Linked DNA regions of Homo sapiens. The protein of the gene in region 4 purifies or fractionates together with the protein of the main gene of each other region. This does not show direct contact. Each region holds a gene or a part of one and is shown on either strand. Other genes may lie near its edges. The genes, in order: MTO1, EXPH5, SLC25A15, TRNAU1AP, SLC25A16, HELZ and ZBTB20.

Region 1 (3,500 bases), on a different chromosome or scaffold from region 4:
ACAGGCATGAGCGACCGCACCTGGTCAAATAGGCGTTTTTTGTTTTGTTTTGTTTTGCTTTTTGAGATGGAGATTCAGTCTTGTTGCCCAACCTGTGGTGCAATGGCACGATCTCAGCTCACTGCAGCCTCCGCCCCCTGGGTTCAAGCAATTCTCCTGCCTCAGCCTCCCTAGTAGCTGGGATTACAGGTGCCCGCCGCCATGCCCAGCTAATTTGTTTTTGCATTTTTAGTAGAGACAGGGTTTCACCATGTTGATCAGGCTGGTCTTGAACTCTTTTTTTTTTTTTTTCTTTGAGATGGCATTTCACTCTTGTTGCCCAGGCTGGAACGCAACAGCACAATCTCGGCTCACTGCAACATCCACCTCACGGGTTCGAGCAATTCTCCCGCCTCAGTCTCTTAAGTAGCTGGGATTACAGGCATGTGCCACCACACCTGGCTAATTTTGTATTTTTAGTAGATGGGGTTTCTCCATGTTGGTCAGGCTGGTCACGAGCTCCCGACCTCAGGTGATCCGCCCGCCTCGGCCTCCCAAAGTGTTGGGATTACAGGTGTGAGCCATCGCACCCAACTGGTCTCAAACTCTTGACCTCAGGTGATCCACCTTCAGCCTCCCAAAATGCTGGGATTACAGGCGTAAGCCACCATGCCCGGCCTAAATTAAGCTTTTGAAACGATATCAGGTGGTGCTGCTGGAAAGGCAGCCGCCCCCTTGCCCATTACACAATGCATTTTTATGGAGAACCCGACACTGAACCATTCTTAGATGACCTGCTTCTGGGGTGGGATTTCAGACATAGCAGAGCAACTTCCTCGCTGCGATCTATTGAAAGTTAACCCTCAGCTGGGCGTGGTGGCTCATGCCTGTAATCCCAACAGTTTGGGAGGCTGAGGCAGGTGGATCACTTGAGGTCAGGAGTTCAAGACCAGTCTGGCCAACATGGTGAAACTCCATCCCTACTAAAAATAAAAAAAAAATAAAAAAATTAGCCAGGCATGGTGGCTCATGCCTGTAATCCCAGCTACTCGGGAGGCTGAGGCAGGAAAATTGCTCGAACCTGGGAGGCAGAGGTTGCAGTTAGCTGTGATTGTGCCACTGCACTCCAGCCTCCAGCCTGGGCAACAGCAAGACTCCATCTCAAAAAAAAAAAAAAAAAAAGAAAGTTAACCCTCAACGCATATAATTTTATTTTAAAAAGACGGAGAAAAACAAAAAAAAGTAAGCAACATCGAGAAAAAGTTGTAAGACTTTTCTCAATGTAAGAGTTTTTTCACAACAAACTCCTATAAACCATTGAACGTCACTCACTGTTAATATTTTACCATATTTATCGCTATAGATATATCAATTTATGTCCATATTTACTGTGTAAGATGGTAATATACACATTTATTCTTATTCTTTTTTTTCTGGAATATTTGGGAGTAAATTGCAGAGATGATGAGCTCTTACCTTAAGCCTATATCTCAACTAAGCACAGAGACATCCTTTTATATAACCCTTATGCAATGATGAAATTCAGAGTACGATGCAGGGACAATAAAATTTAAATTTTTTTTTTTTTTTTGAGACGGAGCCTCACACTATCCCCCAGGCTGGAGTGCAGTGGTGCAATCTCGGCTTACTGCAATCTCGCCTTCTGAGTTCAGTCAGTTCTCATGCCTCAGCCTCCTCAGTAGCCGGGATTACAGGCACCCGCCAACACGCCTGACTAATTTTTGTAGTTTTAGTGGAGACAGGGTTTCACCATGTTGGGCAGGCTGGTTTTGAACTGCTGTTCTTAAATGATCTGCCCGCCTTGGCCTCCCAAGTGTTAGGATTACAGGCATGAGCCACTGCGCCTGACCAAAAAATTTTTTTAAAGACAGAAAAGAGTCCAGGCGCAGTGGCTCATGCCTATAATCCTAGCACTTTGGGAGGCCAAGGCAGGTGGATCACTTGAGGTCAGGAGTTCAAGACCAGCTTGGCCAATATGGTGAAACCTCACCTCTACTAAAAATACAAAAATTAGCTGGGCATGGTGGCATGCGCCTGTAATCCCAGCTACTCAGGAGGCTGAGGCATGAGAATCGCTTGAACCAGGGATGGGGAGGTTGCAGTGAGCTGAGATTGTGCCACTGCACTGCAGCCTGGGCAACAGCAAGACTATGTCTCAAAAAAAAAAAAAAAAAAAAAAGAAATTCGGAGAATTTAACACTGATACAGTGCTATTATCTAACATAAAGTCCGTAGTCACATTTTGCTAATTGGTAAATATTGTCCAAAGCAGCTTTTTTTTTTTTTTTGAGATAGGATCTCACTGTGTTGCCCAGGCTGGAGTGCAGTGGTGCAATCTCAGCTCACTGTAACCTCCGCCTCCCAGGCTTGGATGATCCTTTTACCTCAGCCTCCCAAGTAGCTGCGACCACAGGTGCTCACCACCATGGCTGGCTACTTTTTGTATTTTTTGTAGAGATGAGTTTTTGCAGTGTCACCCAGGCTGGTCTCAAACTCATGGACTGAAGGGATCTGCCTGCCTTGGGCCCCAAAAGTGCTGGGATTACAAGTATGAGCCACCAAGCCTAGCCCAAAACAACCTTTTTATTCCCAATCAAGGGTCATGCATTGCGTTTAATTGTCATTTCTCTTTAAAGTCTTTTATCTGGAACAGTTTGTCAATCTTTAATGGTGCCGACATTTTTGAAGTGTAGAGGCCACTTTTACCTATCTCTCGAGTTTTAAAAAAATGTGGCGTGGCATGGTGGCTCACACCTGTAATCCCAGCACTTTGGGAGGCCAAGGCAGGTGGATCACAAGGTCAAAAGATTGAGACCATCCTGGCCAACATGGTGAAACCCCGTCTCTACTAAAAATACAAAAATTAGCTGGGCATGGTGGCATGCCCCTGTAGTCCCAGCTACTTGGGAGGCTGAGGCAGAATTGCTTGAACCCGGGAGGCAGAGGTTGCAGTGAGCAGAGATGATGCCACTGCACTTCAGCCTGGCGACAGAGCAAGACTCTGTCTCAAAAAAAAAAAAAAAAGTATATTGTATGTGTTTAAGATTGAGGATGAAGAATTGGCCAGGCACAGTGACTCTCACCTGTAATACCAGCACTTTGGGAGGCCAAGGTAGGAGGATCACTTAAGCCTAGGAGTTCAAGACCAGCCTGGGCAACATAATGAGACCCTGCCTGTACAAAAAAAAAATAATTGATGGTCCTAGTTTCTGGTGAGTGTTATCCTGATGTATGGCTTCAAATATTCTGTTACTTTGAGCAAGATACTTTTATATATTTGCTTTGGTAGTATGCAAATTATGATAACCCTTTCTTCTTTTTTGAGACAGAGTCTTGCCCAGGCTAGAGTGCAATGGTAATGGCGCAAGCTTGGCCCACTGCAACCTCCACCCCCTGGGTTCAAGCGATTCTCCTGCCTGAGCCTCCCAAGTAGCTGGGATTACAGGCACCTGCCACCATGCCTGGCTAATTTTTTGGATTTTTTTAGTAGAGACAGAGTT
Region 2 (3,500 bases), on a different chromosome or scaffold from region 4:
CTGACCTCCTTTTGACCTTCATGTGGTTCTCAGGTTTAAGACCATCTGTGCTAATGAGGAATGAAAGTATTTTCTGACTAACCTTCACCTGACTTTCTTTCGCCCTTCACCTGGTTTCCTCAGATCTTTCTTTCCCTTAGTTTGTATTGCCTATAGCAGTAAGTTAAGTTCCATTTGACTAGGTATTGAGTACCGAAGTGTGTGAGGCTCTCCATCCCTGAAATAATCCTTGACCACAAGGAATCAAGGTTGATGTACAACTTACCATGTACCAACTTACCTGTGCACACATTAACATTGTAAAGAAAAGGACAAGGGCAGAAAAACATTTAGACATTTTTAAAAAGAAATTTACCCTTACAAGTTATTTATTTTTTAAAAGACATTTTTAAAAAGTATTTTACCTTCGTAACGGACATTTATGAAAGTAAAAAATAGTCAAACATTCCATATTTATTATCCAAAGAAACAGTTTTATTTATTTATTTATGTATTTATTTCAAGACAGAGTTTTGCTCTTGTTACCCAAGCTGGAGTACAATGGCGCGGTCTCGGCTCACTGCAACCTCCACCTCCTGGGTTCAAGCGATTCTTCTGTCTCAGCTTCCCAGGTAGCTGGGCTTATAGGTGCCAGCCACCAAGCCTGGCTAATTTTTGTATTTTTAGTAGAGATGGGGTTTCACCGTGTTGGCCAGGCTGGTCTCAAACTCCTGACCTCAGGCAATCCACCCATCTCAGCCTCCCAAAGTGCTGGGATTACAGGCGTGAGCCACAGCACCTGGCCCTATTTTTAATAACATATGATAACTAAAAAATAAAACAGTAGTAAAAGGGTTAAAGTCCCTTTAAATGTGATTCCCCAAAGATAATCATTTTAACAGTATAAAGTCTTCCTTATAGAATGCATATATGCATTTTTAACATAAATGGTTGCCAGCAATTTTTTCTATATAGGCAGATGGTATCAGTTATCTTCCCATACCCATTATGCCATTTTCCTTAGTAATAACATCTCCAACTTTTAGCTGAGCATTTGACTACATAGAATTGTGTGTTTTTTATTTTTATGGTGAATGGAGATAAAATAGCAAGAGATTTAAAGTGGATAGATCCCAGTCCTGGTTCTGTTATGAGCTAGATGGGCCAGGTGAGGAAAGTCACTTCAACTTTTTGGTACTGTAGGAGGCAGCACAGCACAGTGATTATGTACAGATGGAGTTCCCAAATCGGACACTCCCTAGCAGTATTATCTCAAGCATGTCACTTACCCTTTCTAAGCTTCCTTTGTCGAATGGAGATAAAGATATCCCTTAACTCATCAGGTTGTTGTAAGAATTAAATGAGATAGTGCACACAAAGAGCTTAGCATGGGTCAATACTCAACAAATGTTAGCTATTATTACAGTTGTTTTATTAGCTTTTGGAAAAGAAGATAATAGTATTTGCTTTATCAGGTTGAGGATGAGGATAAAAAAATATGAAAGACTTTATAAGCTAAAAGAGTTATAATATCACTAAGCTTAAAAAGAACACTGCTGCTTGGCATTGGGATATGGAACGATATTATTATAGTAGTTCTGTGTGTATTGCCTGTGGGGACAAATCCACAGGAGTAACTAGACAGGAAAATGTATCTGAGAGGAAGTTCTCCCTCAGTTTAAAGGAATTAACTAAATTGGATGCCATTGGAAAGTGCAGACAGCTCAGAGATCCGTGGTGTGTTAATCTGGTACTTTGTTATGTTTCAGAACTTGCTCAAGCCTCCTGAGCACACTTGTGACTTCCAGGCATTGTTCTTGTTGTCCCTTTTCCAGGCCACACAGGACTGCATAAGGGCGAGCTACAGTTCATCTTACACATTCTATCGCCAATGAAAACCTTTCATAGACTGAAGCCATTTGGGACAGAATCTGTGTTTTATTTTCCACTGTATTCTCAGGGCCAATCCAGTGTCTGGCACACAGTAAAAAGCCCAATCAGTAGACATCCAATGTCTCTAGAAACTCTGCCCCTTAGCCAGAGGCAGATTTCACAGGCTGGGAGAGGAGAGGGCAGGCAGAATGTGTAGGGGAGGCAGGAGGCTTGTGTATCTGGCTTTTAACCTCTGCCGGATGTGGCAGCTGCCACCAGCTATAGACCACTTTATGACTTTGACATATACAGTCCTGTTCAGACCTGTGCCACAGCTCAAGGATATTAGTGTAAATCAATCAGAAAAAACTAAATTCTGGAAAACCCTCCTGGGCTGCAATCTTGCCATGGAGCAAAAAATGGTCTAAATCTAGACATGCCATTTAAAAACTTGATTACTCCAGGCACCGTAACATCTGGTTCTGATGCCAGATAGATTTAGGTTCAAATTCTATCTCTGACGTTTATGAGCTGTGTGACCTTAGGCAAGTTCCTTAACGTTGCTAAATTTCAGTTTTCCTTCTATAAAAAGCCATTAATAATACCCCAAGAAATGGTTGTGAGGATTATTCAATCTTGATGGGTAAAGTAGTTTTGAAATAGATCTGGATTATAAATTCTGGCTCTGCTGCTTAAGTTGGACAAAATACTCGACCTTTTTTAATTGTTTCCTTCTCTGTGAAATGAGAATTAAAGTGTATACCTAATGAGGTTATTGGGAGGATTAATTAAATCTGTATAACATGTTTAGTACAGTGCCTAGTATATAGTAAGGGCCTAATAAATGTTAGCTGTCGTTATTACCACAATAATTACTATTATTACATAAAAAGGCAGCACTTAATATATGTTGGTGTGGCCATCTCCTCCACCTTAATCTCCTACTAATGAGAAATATCCAAGAATTGGACAATTGGGTCAAGCGTAAGGCGTATCTTGATAGATATTGCCATAATGCTCACCAAAAAGCTTGTAATCAACTTACAACGTCACTAACAATGTGCAAAATCTGTCCATTTCATTCCAACCCTCACCAACATTTTTTTTTCTGTCATTTTTAAAGGGGCAGCATGGTATCTCAAGGTTACTTCAATTTTCATTTATTACTGTGAGGGTAGACATTTTCCCATCTGTTATGTTTACTGTTTGGATATCTTCTGGTGTGAATGATTTATTTCTATCTTTTGCCTATTTATCAGTTTGAATCTTGGTGTTTTTCTTAAAAATCTGAATAAACTATATATTAGAAACATTAACTATTATATTTAATGCAAATACTTTCCTGGTAAGTTGGAGCCAGAGAGGTCTGGTACAGATGAGGGGAGATCAGGAGAAAGTTCTATGTGTTCAGGAACTTTTCTGTGGGTGGGGCTGCTGCCTTCTGCATGATGAACTCAACTACCCTCACACCTATCTCAGAACATCTCTGGCCCTGCATGACACTGTAGTTCTTTTTTAAAAAAAAATGATTTTATTTATTTTATTTTTAAAGACAGGGTCTCTACTGTGTCACTCTGGTTGGAGTGGAACAATCATAGTTCACTGCAGCCTTGAACTCTTGAGCTCAAGGGATCCTCCCACCTGAGCCT
Region 3 (3,500 bases), on a different chromosome or scaffold from region 4:
ACACAACAGGTCCTCTGCTCCTATCAATGGCTGGCAGAAAATTCCCAAAGCCCAGCAAGTTCCACATCCAGAAAGGCAGGGCCCAAAGGCTCCAAACTAACCCTCCCCTCCAGTGTGCTGCAGATGCATTACGGAGTACTAAAGCAGAGACAGCAACGACACCAGACAAGGGACCCAGGGATCACAGTCCTGCCCTGTCTTCACACCATCTTGCTGTGTAACCTTGAACAAATCTACTGCTCCTCTGTGGGCCTTTTTCTACATATCCAACGAGCATTGGAGCCAACAATGTCTAAAGGTCTCTCTAGCTCCAGCACTCCAAGACTCCAAGATCCTCAAAAGTGGGTTCCATTTGCATTCCATAGGCCTCACAGCAGAACAGAGGTTTCTGTGTCACTGCTAGGCACCTCCTCTGCCCAGCCCCCAACCTATAGACCATGTCTCGCTCCCCCTCCCTATCCTGTCCCCCCAGGAATGGGCTTCGTTGTCCTCAGAAGTTAAGACTACCCACAGCATCTCTACCTCGGTGAGGGGCGTCCCTGTGTCGCCAGCACAGGGGGAAATACCTGTCCAACAGTGATGGGGACAGTGTGTCAGTATACATAAGGGATCAATACATGTTCAAAACATGCCCACCAGCAAATGCCTTACATACCAGGCTCCCAACCATACTGTTGCAATTTCTATCTTTCAAACTAACTTGTAAATTATAAATGTGGTACCCAAATACCTGTATGCACATAAATAGGAAAAGGTAAACTTTTAAATTCTATCACCATAGGTTCTAGATCTTTGACAGATTGACTGAAAGACATAAAATGTCAAAAGCTGAGACTATATGTGGCTAAACACCCTCCTTCTGCAGAAACAGAACTGAGCCCAAGAGCATTCACTCGCTGGTGAGAGGCGGCCTGGGGCAGGCAGATGTTTGCACCATTCTCAGGGTCAGCGTCCTCCCCAGTGTGGCATGGGGGAGGGGAGGGGGAAAGGGGCTTGGGAGGCTGTAGCCTAAAGGCACGCAGTGGGCAAGAGACTACTGGGCAGACCCCCACTGGCCTTCCGTTCCCTGGGCATCTGGGGCTGGGACGCTCCTTGTGGGTTCTGCCCTGGGAGAAGTGCCCTTGCCCAGTGCTCCTCATTAGGCTCGGTGACGGTGACGCGCTCTCTCCAGTCTTCCTCATTAGCATACCCTGGCTGACCTTTGGCTCATGGAAAAACACTTTGCTCTTCTCTGAACAATTTCTTTTTCACAATTGAGCAAATGACTGATGAGGTGACCATATTCATGACCATACTCATCTGCTGGTGGTGGGGGTGGGGGGTGTGCTGGATAAGGACAGCACTGGGCAACACCCCCGCTGGCCTCCCCACTCCAGGGAGCTGCAACTACTATGAGAATCCTGCGGGAGCCCAGGGTAGTCCAGGGTTTTCCTTTGGGCAATCAGTATTCCAGCCACTCCTCCTACTTCTGGACTCTGGAGAACCAAATTACCACCATGCACTTCCCATTCCGCCCTGTTTCCCAGCCTGAGGGTCCTGCTCTTCCTGCATGTTCAAGCTGATCTTTCTAAGGAGTAGCCTGCATGGTGCCAGCACTACCCCTTATCACAGGTAGCACCTCCCTGTGCTGGGGGAGCCTCAGGCTCTTGGGCTCAGGCCCCTAGGCTCAGGTTAGCTGACATTCCCAGCAAATCCTACAACTTTCACGGCTCTAAGACACAGTCCATTATCAGTCTCATTTTCAGAGACATGTCTTTTTTTTTTTTTTTTGAGACAGAGTTTCACTGTTGTTGCCCAGGCTGGAGTGCAATGGCGCGATCTTGGCTCACCACAACCTCCGCCTCCGGGGTTCAAGCGATTCTCCTGCCTCAGCCTCCCAAGTAGCTAAGATTACAGGCATGCACCACCACGCCTGGATAATTTTGTATTTTTAGAAGAGACGGGGTTTCTCCATGTTGGTCAAGCTGGTCTTGAACTCCTCACCTCAGGTGATCTGCCCGCCTTGGCCTCCTAAAGTGCTGGGATTACAGGCGTGAGCCACTGCGCCCAGCCTTTTAAAGACATTTCTAAGAGTGTCCTCCTTTCTTTCCCAACACTAGCAGGGACAGTAAGTGGTGTTTCCCAGGAGATGCTATGGTGTTATTTTTGCACAACAAGGGCTCTGAAGACTGCCAGGCTTGAAGTGAAGAACCACATCACCTGCATATCCCAGCCAGGTGACAATGGACACGTGGCTTCACCTCTGAGCTGTTTTCCAGCTGTACTGGGCACCTTCCACCCATCACCCTGACTGACAAGGTGTTAACAATAACGGACACTCCTCTAGCTTCTGCTACTCTCTGAACAATACTAAACTTCCATCAAATGGATTAATCCCAAAGGTAAAGTACTGGAGGGAGAAAGGTAGTATTTTCATACCACTTTCATTTGATCTCATTTAGAGAGTAGTTGAGGAATAGAGAGAACTGGGTTTTCTCTGGGATTATAGTTAGGCATTGCTTAATGACTGGGACATGTTCTGAAATACATGTCATTACACAATTTCGTCATTGTGCTATCATAGAGCATACACACCTGACCCTAGATGGCGTAGCCTACTCCACACCTAGGCTATTCGGTATGGCCTATTGCTCCTAGGCTATACACCTGTACAGGATGTTACTGTACTGGATGTTGCAGGCAACTATAACACAGTGGTATTTATGTATCTAAATGTATCTAAACACAGAAAAGGTACAGTAAAAATATGGTAGTATAATCTCATGGGACCACCATCAGATACACCATCCATCAACGACAGAAACATGGTGATGAGGCACATGACTGTACCTGCAGCCCCCGCTGTGAGGTCAATGGCAGCCTGGATAGCAGGATTGGATTTCATGTTTGCCCACTCTTCTGCTGGTCTTGTGGAAGGCAGCTCTCTGGAGCTTATGACAGGCACCACATATCCCTGGGGGGAGGCAAGAGTTCACCATTAGTCCAAGTCTGCAGCATCCTGTTCTCTAGGCCTGCAGCCAAATTACAGAACCTAAACTTCTGGGAGCCATGACCTGGGGTCCACACTGTTCCAAAGGAAAGGGGCTCAAGGTATCAGTGCAGCTTAGCAACTGCCTCCTAGAAAGCTCACAGATCAAAAACCTCCCCTGTGTATCAATGCTACAGCCACCAGCAGCACTTCAACTGACCTTTCTGAAAACTGAAAAAACGAACACCAAATAAGTAAGCCAACCACAGGTGTACCAAACCGCATCAGACTTGTTTTTTTAGAGGCCTATGTTGAGCCATCAATTGAACAGGCTCAGTTCTAAATTCAGACAGCAGCCTGTGCTGGGTGCCTAAGGGGATCTCACAAGACAGTAGGTCTGGAAAAGAGCACCCAGGCAGCCAAGGGTGGGAGCTGCACCCTGGGATCACACACGCCTTGGTGAATGCCTGCTCTACCTGCAGTGTGGCTCCTTCAGCCTCTACAGCTGGGAGTCCTCATCTGTACAAGGTGA
Region 4 (3,500 bases):
GCCAGGCTGGTCTAGAACTTCCGACCTTAGGTGATCCTCCCGCCGTGGCTTCCCAAAGTGCTGGGAGTACAGGGGTGAGCCACCGCGCCTGGCAATTTTTTTATTTTTAGTAGAGACGGGGTTTCACCATGTTGGCCAAGATGGTCTCGATCTCTTAACCTCATGATTCACCCTCCTTGGCCTCCCAAAGGGCTGGGATTACAGGGGTGAGCCACCGTGCAAGGCTTAAATATTTTTAATTAAAAAATTAATAATGGGCTGGGCACGGTGGCTCACCCCTGTAATCCCAGCACTTTGGGAGGCGAGGCAGGCGGATCACGAGGTCGAGTTTGAGACTAGCCTGGCCAAGATGGTGAAACCCCGTCTCTACTAAGAATACAAAAATTAGCTGGGCGTGGTGGCATGTGCCTGAAATCCCAGCTCTTCGGGAGGCTGAGGCAGGAGAATCACTTGCACCCGGGAGGCGGGCTTGCAGTGAGATGAGATTGCGCCACTGCATTCCAGTCTGGGTGACACAGCAAGACTCTGCCTCAAAAAAAAAAAAAAAAGAAAAAGAAAAAATTAATAATGGCTATTACTATGTTGTAATAGGATATGGGGTGATTTTCAGTTTCATTATACTTTACTATATTTTCTTTTTCTTTTTTTTTGAGACGGAGTCTCGCTCTGTCTCCCAGGCTGGAGCCCATTGGTGCGATCTCGGCTCACTGCAAGCTCTGCCTCCCGGGTTCACGCCATTCTCCTGCCTCAGCCTCCCGAGTAGCTGGGACTACAGGCGCCCATCACCACACCCGGCTAATTTTTTCTATTTTTTAGTAGAGACGGGGTTTCACCGTGTTAGCCAGGATGGTCTCGATTTCCTGACCTCACAATCCACCTGCCTCGGCCTCCCAAAGTGCTGGGATTAGAGGCGTGAGCCACCATGCCTGGCCCATACTTTACTATATTTTCCAAATTTTCCATCCTAACGATGACTTAAAAATCAGGAAAATATGTCTTTTAAAATATATTGAAAAACAGAAAAAAAATAAAATAAATAAAAAATGAATTTTACAAACAGTCAAACAAATAAAAGGTAACAGTATTATCGGCCAGGCACAGTGGCTCATGCCTGTAATCCCAGCACTTTGGGAGGCTGAGGCGGGCGGATCACCTAAGGCTGAGAGTTTGAGACCGGCCAAGCCAACATGGAGAAACCCTGTCTCTACTAAAAATACAAAATAATTAGCTGGGCATGGTGGTGCATGCCCGTAATCCCAGCTACTCGGGAGGCTGAGGCAGGAGAATTGCTTGAACCTGGCAGGTGGAGGTTGCGGTGAACTGAGATCATGCCATTGCACTCCAGCCTGGCCAACAAGAGTGAAACTCCACCACACACACACACAAAAAAAGGGTAACAGTATTATCGTTAGAGGCCCACATACCAGGATAGAATGCCACATGTCAAGGGGGTGATGGGCTCTCCTGGAGCTGCCTGTCCCAGGCTCTCTGGGATCTACACTTACACCTCTGGGTAACACCCGACACATCTTACCATAATTACATATTTGTCTGGCTCTCTAACCAGAATGTAAGTTCTTCCAGAGCAGAATTTATCTTGTCTTCCCTCTAGCTGAGAGCACAGTGCCAGCCACAGCAGTCACCTGATAATGGCTGACAGAGTAAGGAACGTATGAACCCTTACCTTCCAATGCATCATCTCCAACTTCTTCATATGTCTGCCAAGAGACCAGAGATGTGGGTTAGGGGCATGGTGAAATCCTGGCCCAGGACCACAGTGGCTTATATTTTTTATTTTTTTTGAGGTGGAGTCTAGCTCTGTCACCCAGACTAGAGTGTAGTGGCGTGATCTCGGCTCACTGCAACACCCGCATCCCAGTTTCAAGAGATTCTCCTGCCTCAGTCTCCTGAGCAGCTGGGATTATAGGCGCCTGCCACTATGCCCAGCTAATTTTTTGTATTTTTAGTAGATACAGGGTTTCACCATGTTGGCCAGGCTGGTTTTGAACTCCTGACCTCAGGTGATCTACCTGCCTCGGCCTCTCAAAGTGCTAGGATTACAGGTGTGAGCCACTGGGCCCTACCCACAATGGCTTATTTTTAACAAGAGGAACTGGACTGCTTCAACTTTCCCTATTTTTTCTGAAGCCCAAGCCCCTGTCCTTACCAATCCCATCCTAGAGAATGACCTGTTTCTAGAGGAGAAACACAACCCAAGGGGACCAGTCTTGCCAAGTCATGGTTACCTGCATGGTGCTCTGGGTATAGCCATACTGGGGGTAACTGTAGCTGTAGCTGCCTGTGTTCTGGTCATAGCCCCACTGAGCATAGTAGTTCTGGTACTGCTGATAATACTGGTTGTAGCTATAACTGTACATCTGACTATATTCCACTGGCTTTACACGGCTCCTTAAATGAAGACAGAAACAAAAATAAGTGTAAGCAAACATTTCCGTAACACTGCCTATGTGGCCACAGACTATTTTAAGTGCTTTATACCGATTAACTTTTTTTTTTCTTGAGACAGAGTCTTGCTCTGTTGCCTAGGCTGGAGTACAGGGGCGCAATCTCGGCTCACTGCAACCTGCGCCTCCCGGGTTCAAGCGATTCTCCTGCCTCAGCCTCCTGAGTAGCTGGGACTACAGGTGTGTGCCACCACGCCTGGCTAATTTTTTGTATTTTCAGTAGAGACAGGGTTTCACCATGTTAGCCAGGCTGGTCTCGATCTCCTGACCTCGTGATCCGCCTGCCTCAGCCTCCCAAAGTGCTGGGAGCCCGGCCACCAATTAACTCTTTTAATCCTCAAAACAACCATATGCAATAAGTGTATCATTATTCCTATTTTACAGATAAGGAAACTGAGGAACAGAGAGGTTAAGTAATTTGTCCAAAGTCACACAGCTAATATGAGAGTATGGCTCCAGAGACCATGCTTTTAATACAGGAGATTTTAATGGATAGGTTTGTCTCTCTTAACAAACTATGTCAGGACTGGCAAAAGGATATCCTGTTTAAAAAAAAAAACAAAACAAAAAAGGGCTGGGTGCGGTGGCTCACACCTGTAATCCCAACACTTTGGGAGGCGAAGGCAGGTGGGTCACCTGAGGTCAGGAGTTCCAAGACTAGCCTGGACAACATGGTGAAACCCCATCTCTACTAAAAATACAAAAAATTAGCTGGGTGGGATGGCGCGCCCGCAATCCCAGCTGCTTGTGAAGCTGAGGCAGGAGAATCGCTTGAACCTGGGAGACAGAGGTTGCAATGGGCCTAGATTGTGCCACTGGACTCCAGTCTGGGCAATAAAAGTGAAACTCTGTTTCAAAAAAAAAAGAAAAGAGACAGACGTGGTAGCTCACGCCTATAATCCCAGCCACTTGGGAGGCTAAGGAAGGAGAATCGCTTGATCCTGGGAGGCCCAGCTAATTTTTGTACTTTTAGCAGAGATGAGGTTTCACCATGTTGGCCAGGGTGGTCTTGAACTCCTGGCTTCAAGTGATCCA
Region 5 (3,500 bases), on a different chromosome or scaffold from region 4:
ACCTGCAACCTGTGCTTTCCCCAATGGCACTCATATAATCTAAACCAAATTAAATATTTTAATAGAAAATTAATTTGTCAGAAATAAAATATACCTAACTCCTCTTACCTGCCATGGATCCAGCCATTAATCTGTGCACATGACCTGAAATTCCCAGCTTCGTAGTAATTAACTAGAAAACAAGAACACTGAATTAAATGAGATATTTTTTAAATGCTGCCCATTTCACTGTTTAATAATGAAGATTTATTTCAAGAGTTACAGGACTAATAAAAAGGAAATTAATAATAAATGTGAACGAAATGAGCACAATTAAATACAGCTTGGCAGTGTTATATCACAGCAGAAGGGGATATTTCCTCTGTAGTCTCTGCTTTAATTTTTTGCATTTCTGCAGAAGCAAGCTAGCTTAGTATTGCTAAGTATATGATACTGTGTATTAAGGAACACAAGCCCTTAACAAGTGACTGGGGGTAGTAGGAATAAACTGCTACTTTTTTTTTTTTTTTTTTTTTTTTTTGAGATGAAGTCTCGCTCTGTGTCCCAGGCTGGATTGCAGTGGCACGATCTCGGCTCACTGCAACCTAGATTCAAGCGATTCTCCTGCCTCGGCCTCCCAAGTAGCTGGGACTACAGCCGTGTGCCATTACGCCCGGCTAATTTTTTATTTTTTAGTAGAGACGGGGTTTCACCACATTGGTCAGGCTGGTCTCGAACTCCTGACCTCAGGTGATCCACCCACCTCGGCCTCTCAAAGTGCTGGGATTATAGGCTGAAGCCACCGCACCCAGCCTAATTTTTTATTTTATTTTTTAAATGCTCTATAGACAATGAAGTCCTGATACACAAATGGCATCAATTCTCTTTGGCTGACTAGCTTAGAATGTTGTTCCGATCTCTGCTGCTTGTGTTTTTTTTGTTTTTTTTTTTGAGACAGAGTCTGGCTCTGTCGCCCAGGCTGGAGTGCAGTGGTGCGATCTCGGCTCACTGCAAGCTCCGCCTCCTGGGTTCACACCATTCTCCTGCCTCAGCCTCCTGAGTAGCTGGGTTTCACCATGTTAGCCAGGATGGTCTCGATCTCCTGAACTTGTGATCCGCCCGCCTCGGCATCCCAAAGTGCTGGGGATTACAGGCATGAGCCACCGCACCCGGCCTTGTTTTTTGTTTTTTGTTTTGATTCGGAGTCTCACTCTGTCACCCAGGCTGGAGTGCAATGGCACGATCTTGGCTCACTGCAACCTCCGTATCCCGGGTTCAAGCGATTATCCTGCCTCAGCCTCCTGAGTAGCTGGGATTATAGGCATGCGCCACCACATCCAGCTAATTTTGTATTTTTAGTAGAGAAGGGGTCTCTCCATGTTGGTCAGGCTGGTCTCAAACTTCCGACCTCAGCTGATACTCCCACCTCGGCCTCCCAAAGTGCTGTGATTACAAGCATGAGCCACTGTGCCCAGCCAGTTTCACTATTTTGTTTAATAAGAAAATCCAAAGTCACAGTGTTCCTCTCCTACAATTGAGTAACAAAAAGCACACTAAAGGCTGGGGCCCACAGATAGCTTGGGCCCAGGAGTTCGAGACTAGCATGGGCAACACAGTGAGACCCCATCTCTACAAAATATTTTTTAAAAAATCAGCCAGGCCTCTTCTCCACCTCTGAAAAAGAAAGAAAAAACAAATTAGCCGGGGGTGGTGGCACATGCCTCTAGTGCCAGTTACTCAGGAGGCTGAAGTGGGAGAATTGCTTGAGTCCGTGAGGTTGAGGCTGCAGTAAGCCAGGACCACATCACTGCACTCCAGCCTAGGTGACAGAGAAACTATCTCAAAAAAGAAAGAAAAGAAAAGAAAAGAGGGAGGGAAGGAGGGAAGGGAAACACATTAAAAATATATTAATATTATATGGATTTATTATTATCTTCTTTAAAGATATTCTAGCTCTCATTCATTAGGAGTGAACATAAAGAATTTACTTGGCCGGGTGCAGTGGCTATGCCTGTAATCCCAAGAATTTGGGAGGCCAAGGTGGGCAGATCACCTGAATCAGGAGTTCCAGACCAGCCTGACCAACATGGTGAAACCCCGCCTCTACTAAAAATACAAAATTAGCCAGGAATGGTGGTGCATGCCTGTAAGAATCTGGGAGGCAGAGATTGCAGTGAGCCAAGATCATGTCATTGCACTCCAGCCTAGGGAACAAAAGTGAAACTCCGTCTGAAAAAATAAATAAATAAAGGCCGGGCACGGTGGCTCAAGCCTGTAATCCCAGCATTTTGGGAGACGGAGGCGGGTGGATCACGCGGTCAGGAGTTCAGGACCAGCCTGGCCAAGATGGTGAAACCCCATCTCTACTAAAAATACAAAAATTAGCTGGGTGTGGTGGCGGGCGCCTGTAATTCCAGCTACTCAGGAGGCTGAGGCAAAGAACTGCTTGAACCCAGGAGATGGAGGTGGCAGTGAGCCAAGAGTGCACCACTGCACTCCAGCCTGGGCAACAGAGTGAGACTCCATCTCAAAAAATAAAATTAAATAAATAAATAAATAAATAACTCATAAATGACTAACAATTCTGGAATCGGTAATTCCAAAGACAAGTTATATTTAAAATCTTAAGCTGTCACAAGTCTTATTCCTTTAAAAAGGCATTGCTATATCAAAAGTAACTTTTTGGCCTGGTACCATGGCTCATGCCTGCAATCCCAACACTTTGGGAGGCCAGGAGTTTGAGACAAGCCTGGCCAAAATGGCAAAACGCTGTCTCTACTAAACATACAAAAATTAGCCAGGCATGGTGGCATAGGCCTGTAATCCCAGCTACTCAGGAGGCTGAGGCAGGAGAATCGCTTGAACCCAGGAGGCGAGGTTGCAGTGAGCCTTTCAAAATCGTGCCACTGTACCCCAGCCTGGGCAGCGAGACTCTGTCTCAAAAATTAAAAAAAAAAAACCAATAATTTAACTTTTTAAAAATATGAAACTTTTACATATTTTTAAATGTCCAAAGCAAATGCCTGGTCAAGCATGCATGATATTCAAGAACGCAAAAGAGAAAAGATCAAAGTTTAACTACCGTTTTATAATGCTCAAATGCCATAAACTGGATTGCACCATAGGGAAAGATTCGAATCATCATTGCACCATTTCCTTTATACAATCCAAGGAATCCTTCTTTTTGAGGAACAGCACGCAATGCAGAAAATACTCCTATTTTTAGAGGAAAAATGCTGTTAAAACAGAGAAAATTATCTAAACCTAAATTTTCATGACAATCACAGATAAAGATTAATGTGCCATCACTCAAGATATAATTTTGCTTGAGGGATTACATGAATAGTAATTTCTATAAAACAGTTAAACCTACTAAAAATGCATCATATATCCAAATAATATAAATAAGCACACCCCATATAATATAAAACCTACTGTAGAAACAACTACAAATTACAGCAAATTCTATTTATAATAATAGCAAATTATATTAAACTATAGCAATCTAAAAAATATTAACA
Region 6 (3,500 bases), on a different chromosome or scaffold from region 4:
TCCAAGCAGCCACAAAGAGACAACAGAAGGCCGGGCGCGGTGGCTCACACCTGTAATCCCAGCACTTTGGGAGGCCAAGGCGGGTGGATCACGAGGTCAGAAGTTCAAGACCAGCCTGAACAACATGGTGAAACCCCGTCTCTACTAAAAATACAAAAATTAGCAGGGCATGGTAGTGCGCACCTGTAATCCCAGATACTCAGGAGGCTGAGGCAGGAAAATCACTTGAACCAGGGAGGCGGAGGCTGCAGTGAGTCGAGATCGTGTCACTGTACTCCAGCCTGGGCAACAGAGCGAGACTCCCTCACAAAAAAAAAAAAAAGAGAGAGACAACAGAAGCCAGAACCCACAAATGGTCAAGCCTCAAGCAGTGTCCTGCTTCAACCCAGCACATGCCATCACAAGAACTTGAGAACCACTCAGAGGAGCAGTGATACAAAGGGGCTCACAGCAGATGCCCAATAAATACTTGCTGAACTGAATCCTGGAATAATCCATCTGTTCCCCTTCAAACACTCTTCCCAAGATCATTTACCATTTTGACCACACACTCTTTTTTTTTTTTTTTTTTTTTTTTGAGACGGAGTCTCCCTCTTTTGCCCAGGCTGTACGCAGTGGTGCTATCTCTATCTCGGCTCACTGCAAGCTCCACCTCCCGGGTTCACACCATTCTCCTGCCTCAGACTCCCGAGTAGCTGGGACTACAGGCACCTGCCACCACGCCCGGCTAATTTTTTGTATTTTTAGAAGAGACGGGGTTTCATCGTGTTAGCCAGGATGGTCTCGATCTCCTGACCTCCTGATCCGCCCGCCTTGGCCTCCCAAAGTGCTGGGATTACAGGCGTGAGCCACTGCACCCAGCCTCGACCACACACTCTTGTGAACAATTTTTACTGACCATATTATACCAGCCTTACCATTCAAAGCCTACAATAGTTAATTGCATAATATAGCAACTGATATCAACAAACAGTTCACCATAAAGAGGCTCAAATAGTTAAATTCAACATTATATAACAAAGAAATGAAAGTGCCATTTTACACTATTAAATTCACAAAAACTTCTGAAGAAAAATGGTTTTCTCTACTACTTATGGTAAAACAGGTATATCCATATATCTGTTAGGAGCACAAACTGGTATAACACCCTTGAAAACAGTAGGACAATATATGTGAGGAGCCATAAAAACACTGATACCCCTTAACATAATAACACACTCCAAAATTTATCCTTAAGATATCATTAGAAAAAATGCAACAGTATCTACAATGATGTAGATTAAAGTGTTAACTGAAAACCACCCAGACAGCAGTATAAATACTTCACATAAAAAGACTTAGGTAAATTGTAGCATGACTTGATGAAATTATTTTTGCAGCCTTTCAATATATAAAGTTAAATTATAAAATCTATAAGATGTAAATGTTTCATGATATAGTAAGTTTTTAAAAATCAAACTATAATGTATCATAATTTAAAATGAATTTTAAAATGTATATTTTGAAATGAAATGCCAAAAAGAAAATCAATTGTCTTAGGATAATAACCCAACATTTAACAATTTATTTATTATCAATTTATTCAACATTAAATAATAAAGTTCTACCCTACCAAGGAAATGAAGGGGTTCCAGGACACAAGCTTGATAAAGTCTCAAAAGGACCACCCCTCCCTTCTACTGCTCACTTTGGCCTTGACTGAGTGTTTTCATACTCTCCTTGGTCATGATGACCTATACTAACCCAAACCCCAGTTTTTCAAGGACCAGCCAACTGCCTCAATTGGTCCTCTGATCATCCCTATGAACCCGTGGGAGACAAATCATGCAAAACAAGCGAACACTCAAGAAACAAAGAACCTGGCCGGGCGTAGTGGTTCACGCCTGTAATCCCAGCACTTTGGGAGGCCAAGGCGGGTGGATCACCTGAGGTCAGGAATTCGAGACCAGTCTGACCAACATGGCAAAGTCCCAAGCTACTAGGGAGGCTGAGGCAAGAGAATCGCTTGAACCCAGGAGGCAGAGGTTGCAGTGAGCCGAGATCCCACCAGTGTACTCCAGCCTGGGCGACAGAGTGAGACTCTGTCTCGAAAAAAAACAATTTTTTTGATTTATTTATTAGTTTAACATTTATTACTTTAACAATTTACTTATTTATTACTTTAACCAATCAGCAAGTAGTCAGCCCAAGTTTCACTGTAAACCCTAAAAATATACAATATTGCCACATTAAAGTCTCTGGGATTCTCAAGGCTAACTTGCTGACTTAGCAGTGGACTGTATCAGTTAAAAGGCAGTGTGGACTCAGACAATCAAAGAACCAGGGGCCAGGAGACCTGAGAACAATTAAAAGCAAAATGTAGATAGATTTTTTTTTTAACTACAAAAAACACAAAGCTAAAAAGTCCAGCTTAAACCAGATGAGTAAAAAAATAGCTGGAGATATTCTTTTAAGTCTTAGCCAGAGTGCAAAAGGGAGGATGGAAAGTCATTTTATTAAGAGCTGAAGCTAGCCCGGCACAGTGGCTCACACCTGTAATCCCAGCTCTTTGGGAGGCCAAGGCGGGTGGATCACTTGAGGTCAGGAGTTCGAGACCAGCCTGACCAACATGGTGAACCCCCATCTCCAGTAAAAATACAAAATTAGTCAGGCGTGGTAGCGCACACCTATAGTCCCAGCTACTTGGGAGGCTGAGGCAGGAGAATCACTTGAACCCAAGAGGCAGAGGTTACAGTGAGCTGAGATCGCCCCATTGCACTCCAGCCTGGGCAACAAAAGCAAGACTCCATCTCAAAAAAAAAAAAAAAAAGACCTGAAGCTTTTTGCGGATGAAGATATCTCACAAAAGACAAGTACTGAAAATTCATGGCCAGGCATGGTGGCTCACACCTGTAATTCCAGCACTTTGGGAGGCCAAGGCAGGTGGATCATGAGGTCAGGAGTTTGAGACCAGCCTGGCCAACATAATGAAACCCCGTCTTTACTAAAAATACAAAAAAATTAGCCAGGCATGGTGGCAGGCACCTATAATTCCAGCTACTTGGGAGGCTAAGGTAAGGAGAATCGCTTGAACCTGGGAGGCAGAGGTTGCAGTGAGCTGAGATTGCACCACTGCACTCCAGCCTGGGCGACACTGCCAAGACTCTGTCTCTCAAAAAAAAAAAAAAAAAAAAAGGAAGAAAATTAATTTAAAAATAATTTTAGGTCGGGTGCGGTGGCTCACGCCTGTAATCCTGACACTTTGGGAGGCCGAAGCGAGTGGATCACCTGAGGTCAGGGGTTTGAGGCCAGCCTGGCCAACATGGTAAAGCCCTGGCTCTACTAAAAATACAAAAAGTAGCTGGGCATGGTGGCGGGCGCCTGTAATCCCAGCTACTCAGGAGGCTGAGGCAGGAGAATTGCTTGAACCCAGGAGGCGGAGGTTGCAGTGAGCCGAGATCGTGCCATTCATTGCACTCCAGCCTAGGTGACAAAAGCGAAACTCCGTCTCAAAAAAATAA
Region 7 (3,500 bases), on a different chromosome or scaffold from region 4:
GGATCCTCCACCTCCTCCCCCACTCCCTTTTTTTTAAGAGACACTTCCTTTACAGGGAAAGGATGATAGACTCCTCAGGGTTTCAAGTCACCTGCAGCTTTTTCTCTACATGTTCTACCAAAAGAAAAGGTGGATTCTAACCCAATTGCTTAGCATTTTACATGGCAAATCAGCATTAAGGCAAATGGGTCTCTCTCAGATTTGAGAAACAGAAAGCTACACGTGGCCCATAATGGCACCTAAGATCAACTTTTCAGGCGGTATTAGTGAAAATTCTTCCTACTTTGCTAAATTTGAACAAAGACACTTTCAAATCTACTGTGAAACAGTTTAAAATATTTTAAAGTGGCTTTTGGCCTTCTTTCATTTGTAACATGTATTGAGTGATTTCATGTCATTGTCTCCTAGCTTTAAGAGTTTTTTTCTTAAGGTCAATCTTCTCTTTTCATTTTATGGGTGGAATCACTTGTTTTCCAAAATATCAAAACAATTCCATGACATAGTTAATTAATGCTCCCTCTATTGGTGGTAAGTGGAAATATTAGTCTTACAACACTGCTATTTTAAAAAGCAAAATTAGCAATAGAAAAATGAACTTACTTTATCTCGGAAGCTGTTCCTCACTAACTGTTAAAACAGATCAGTTTTGGACATACAGTTCTTGGCAGGACTCCTCTTAGAAATCACAATAGGTTACACTTAATAGTCAGTTAACCACCCAAGTTTACATTAAAACTTCTAGCAAAATATCCACTGAATTAAGCACTGTGGGACCAAATCAAACTCACAAACACTTCAGTTACACTAACCTTACAAAGCATCACAAAGAACTTATGAAAAAGATCCAAGTTAACCAAATGTCTAAAATATATGAATAAAACCAATTTAGTCATTACAGAGTTGTTTGTGTTGGAAGATTTTCCCTCGTTTGCTGCACAGTTTTTGTAAATAAAATGCTGACAGGAAAATTAGAAGGAAAATTAAATTAAAATGTAATGTAATTTTGAAACTAAAATACGCTCTCCTTTCTTCTTTTTAAAACTGTAGTTTGGTGTTTTGCTTTGTTTAAAGATTTGCTTTCCCCTAAGTATGTTAAAATATGCCCAGCAATGAAATCACTTTGGGAGTTTCAGCTAGGTTTAAGAATTCCTATATTTGAGCTGGAATCCCTTCAGGACACTGTCTATAATGAAAATGTCTCTATTATAACACCTTGATCAGGACCGAGGAGAGAAATCCCTACTAGGAAGAGAGAGTGGCATCTGGTATGATGCAATAGATTGGTGGTCTTTTGAATGGTGGCTGTTGGCATCTGGGAATTTTTTTGTTAATTTCCCTAAAACCTTTCGAAGAAGCAAGGGTTAATTCGTCATCTAAAGAATGATCATCTTATTCAGCCCTCTTAACCATGGTGGAAACAGTCAGAAGGTGATATTTGGAAGGAAAAAAGTAATTTTGGCATCAATGCATCTTGATCTATAACAGGCTTCTCATAATGATGCTCTTTGTAGTTGGGAAGGGTGAGGAGCTATGGCAGAGTTTTGTGAACTCCTCTTCCTGGCTGATCACAAAAGAAAAGACCCCATTTATCAAGACTTCTAGACTATTAGTGTTTCACTAAGAAAAAAAGTAAAGTCAATAGAAATTCTAGAATTGTAAGATCTCAATGAAATTTTGGAGAAGCAAGCAATCTCTTTCTGAAAGATAAAGTCTCTTCCATGAAAAAGAACAGAATTCTAGATGAATCAGTTGAAAAAATTATTCAGTGGGGCAACTTAAGCTTGCTAAAGTCAAAGAACTACATATCAAAATACAAAGCAGCAATTCAAATTACAGCAGGGATGGGCTGGCCACAGAGGCCCTCATCAACCCAGGCAATACTTAAAATAATAAAAATTAAGAAAAATTAAAAAAAATATGAAGAAAATATCCTTCCTCTCTTTCAAATATAACTTTAGTTGCCTTTTATTCTTTCTATCTGGAAGCAGTATCGCTAACCTTAACAGTCTTGACTTACCAAAAAATATATATATGTGTGTGAAATAAAATAAAAGAGAAGGAATTGGTGGCAGTGTATGCAAAACCAAAATGAAAAAAATTACTTTTAACAATTTCACTTTTTTTGTTTTTTTTTTTACACAAATACTGTTGTAAATATATTAAAAAAATCAGCATTCTATCTGGTAAACGTCACTTTTGCCCCTCTATAAAATTTTGAATTAAAAAAGCCTCAAGAACTTTTTATTGTTCCCCCCACCCTCCATTTCTTTTTCTTTTTCTCTTCCACAAGAATATATCCTGACACTTTTTTTTTTTTTGCAAAGATTGTTGGAAATAATCCTTCTCTTGTACCTAGAAACATAGGTGCAAATTTCTGATATCTTTGTTTTATCTGCATTCCTGCCTTTCATGAAAGTCCCTCTTGATTGTGCTGAGGCTGTGGCTCAGCGAAGACACTGAATAAATACGATAGCCACTGTTGCTTGTTGCTTGTCCAAGTCTTCCTGGCTTCTGCTGCAAGAGGGGGATATGGAGAAGGTGGGCCAGGGTGTGTGGACCCGGGCAGAATCTGGGGAAGAAGCCTGCCATTCGTCTTTCTTTCCCACACCACCGAACCCACTGCCCTTCCCACCCCCACAGCCCTTTTATGAAATCAGACAACGTGGTAGGTGGAAAACAGCAGGGCCTTTCCTCTGGGTTTTCAACCAGAAGTGATATTCCACAGTTTTAACTGGTTACTGTGAAGTCCAAGCGGCCAGAATTGTGAAAATGTCCACTGAAACACTGCAAGCGGTGTACTTAAAGACAGTAGGCCTTTTAGATTTTGTTATATATTTTTTGTAGTGCTCTTCACAAGTGGAAATTTTTTTTTTTTTTTTACTTTTTTTTAAAAGATTTTTTTGTAAAGAAGGGTTGTATTTAGAGGCCAGTAGCTAGAGATCCAACCAGTGGACCTCTTGAAGCACTACCAGGCCTTAAGGCCACCATCCGAGGGAGACTGGGAAAACTATTATTCACCCAAGCCTCCGGAAATGTAATGTACCAGCAGGCAAAAAACAGTTCTTCATGTAGTACAAAATGAAACGAAACAAAAACAAAAACAGAAAGTAAAAATGAAACCAAAACATTTCTTAAATTCTAGTGCCATAGCTTTTTTGTTTGTTTGTTTTTTGTTGTTGTTTTGTTTTGTTCATAAGAAAGAGAGAAAGATACTACTTATCCGTCAGACACATGCATCCTCATGTGGTCGTTGAACTGCTCGATTTGGTCAAACTTTGCTGGGCAGACGGAGCAGACGTAAGTGGTCCCCTCCGTGCAGGCCACCACGCCTGGGGGGCCAGCGCGGGCACCTGGGGGTGTGCCTGCAGGGGGGGTCCCATTGCTGGCACTGTGCAGGGCCACGTGTCGCTCCAGGAGGGTCTTGTGAGAGAACTTCTTTTTGCAGATGTAGCACTCGTAGGACTTCTCTCCCCGGTGGAGGCGCATGTGCACGTTGAGGG

The links.
Region 1: the proteins of TRNAU1AP (region 4) and MTO1 purify together in Homo sapiens (affinity purification with mass spectrometry; one large-scale study listed by BioGRID and IntAct). This does not show direct contact.
Region 2: the proteins of TRNAU1AP (region 4) and EXPH5 purify together in Homo sapiens (affinity purification with mass spectrometry; one large-scale study listed by BioGRID and IntAct). This does not show direct contact.
Region 3: the proteins of TRNAU1AP (region 4) and SLC25A15 purify together in Homo sapiens (affinity purification with mass spectrometry; one large-scale study listed by BioGRID and IntAct). This does not show direct contact.
Region 5: the proteins of TRNAU1AP (region 4) and SLC25A16 purify together in Homo sapiens (affinity purification with mass spectrometry; one large-scale study listed by BioGRID and IntAct). This does not show direct contact.
Region 6: the proteins of TRNAU1AP (region 4) and HELZ purify together in Homo sapiens (affinity purification with mass spectrometry; one large-scale study listed by BioGRID and IntAct). This does not show direct contact.
Region 7: the proteins of TRNAU1AP (region 4) and ZBTB20 purify together in Homo sapiens (affinity purification with mass spectrometry; one large-scale study listed by BioGRID and IntAct). This does not show direct contact.

The regions. Positions count from the first base shown.
Region 1 is NC_000006.12:73,475,237-73,478,736, forward strand, and holds part of MTO1 (5-taurinomethyluridine-[tRNA] synthase subunit MTO1, mitochondrial), read left to right. Parts: intron 1-3,500. UniProt on the Homo sapiens protein: Component of the GTPBP3-MTO1 complex that catalyzes the 5-taurinomethyluridine (taum(5)U) modification at the 34th wobble position (U34) of mitochondrial tRNAs (mt-tRNAs), which plays a role in mt-tRNA decoding and mitochondrial translation.
Region 2 is NC_000011.10:108,587,269-108,590,768, forward strand, and holds part of EXPH5 (exophilin-5), read right to left. Parts: intron 1-3,500. UniProt on the Homo sapiens protein: May act as Rab effector protein and play a role in vesicle trafficking.
Region 3 is NC_000013.11:40,792,611-40,796,110, reverse strand, and holds part of SLC25A15 (mitochondrial ornithine transporter 1), read right to left. Parts: intron 2,954-3,500; 5' UTR 2,885-2,953; coding exon 2,830-2,884; intron 1-2,829.
Region 4 is NC_000001.11:28,570,085-28,573,584, reverse strand, and holds part of TRNAU1AP (tRNA selenocysteine 1-associated protein 1), read right to left. Parts: intron 2,410-3,500; coding exon 2,247-2,409; intron 1,719-2,246; coding exon 1,685-1,718; intron 1-1,684. UniProt on the Homo sapiens protein: Involved in the early steps of selenocysteine biosynthesis and tRNA(Sec) charging to the later steps resulting in the cotranslational incorporation of selenocysteine into selenoproteins. Stabilizes the SECISBP2, EEFSEC and tRNA(Sec) complex.
Region 5 is NC_000010.11:68,503,524-68,507,023, forward strand, and holds part of SLC25A16 (solute carrier family 25 member 16), read right to left. Parts: intron 3,196-3,500; coding exon 3,062-3,195; intron 173-3,061; coding exon 109-172; intron 1-108. UniProt on the Homo sapiens protein: May be involved in the transport of coenzyme A in the mitochondrial matrix. Very little is known about the physiological function of this carrier.
Region 6 is NC_000017.11:67,235,197-67,238,696, forward strand, and holds part of HELZ (probable helicase with zinc finger domain), read right to left. Parts: intron 1-3,500. UniProt on the Homo sapiens protein: May act as a helicase that plays a role in RNA metabolism in multiple tissues and organs within the developing embryo.
Region 7 is NC_000003.12:114,335,789-114,339,288, forward strand, and holds part of ZBTB20 (zinc finger and BTB domain-containing protein 20), read right to left. Parts: coding exon 3,217-3,500; 3' UTR 1-3,216. UniProt on the Homo sapiens protein: May be a transcription factor that may be involved in hematopoiesis, oncogenesis, and immune responses. Plays a role in postnatal myogenesis, may be involved in the regulation of satellite cells self-renewal.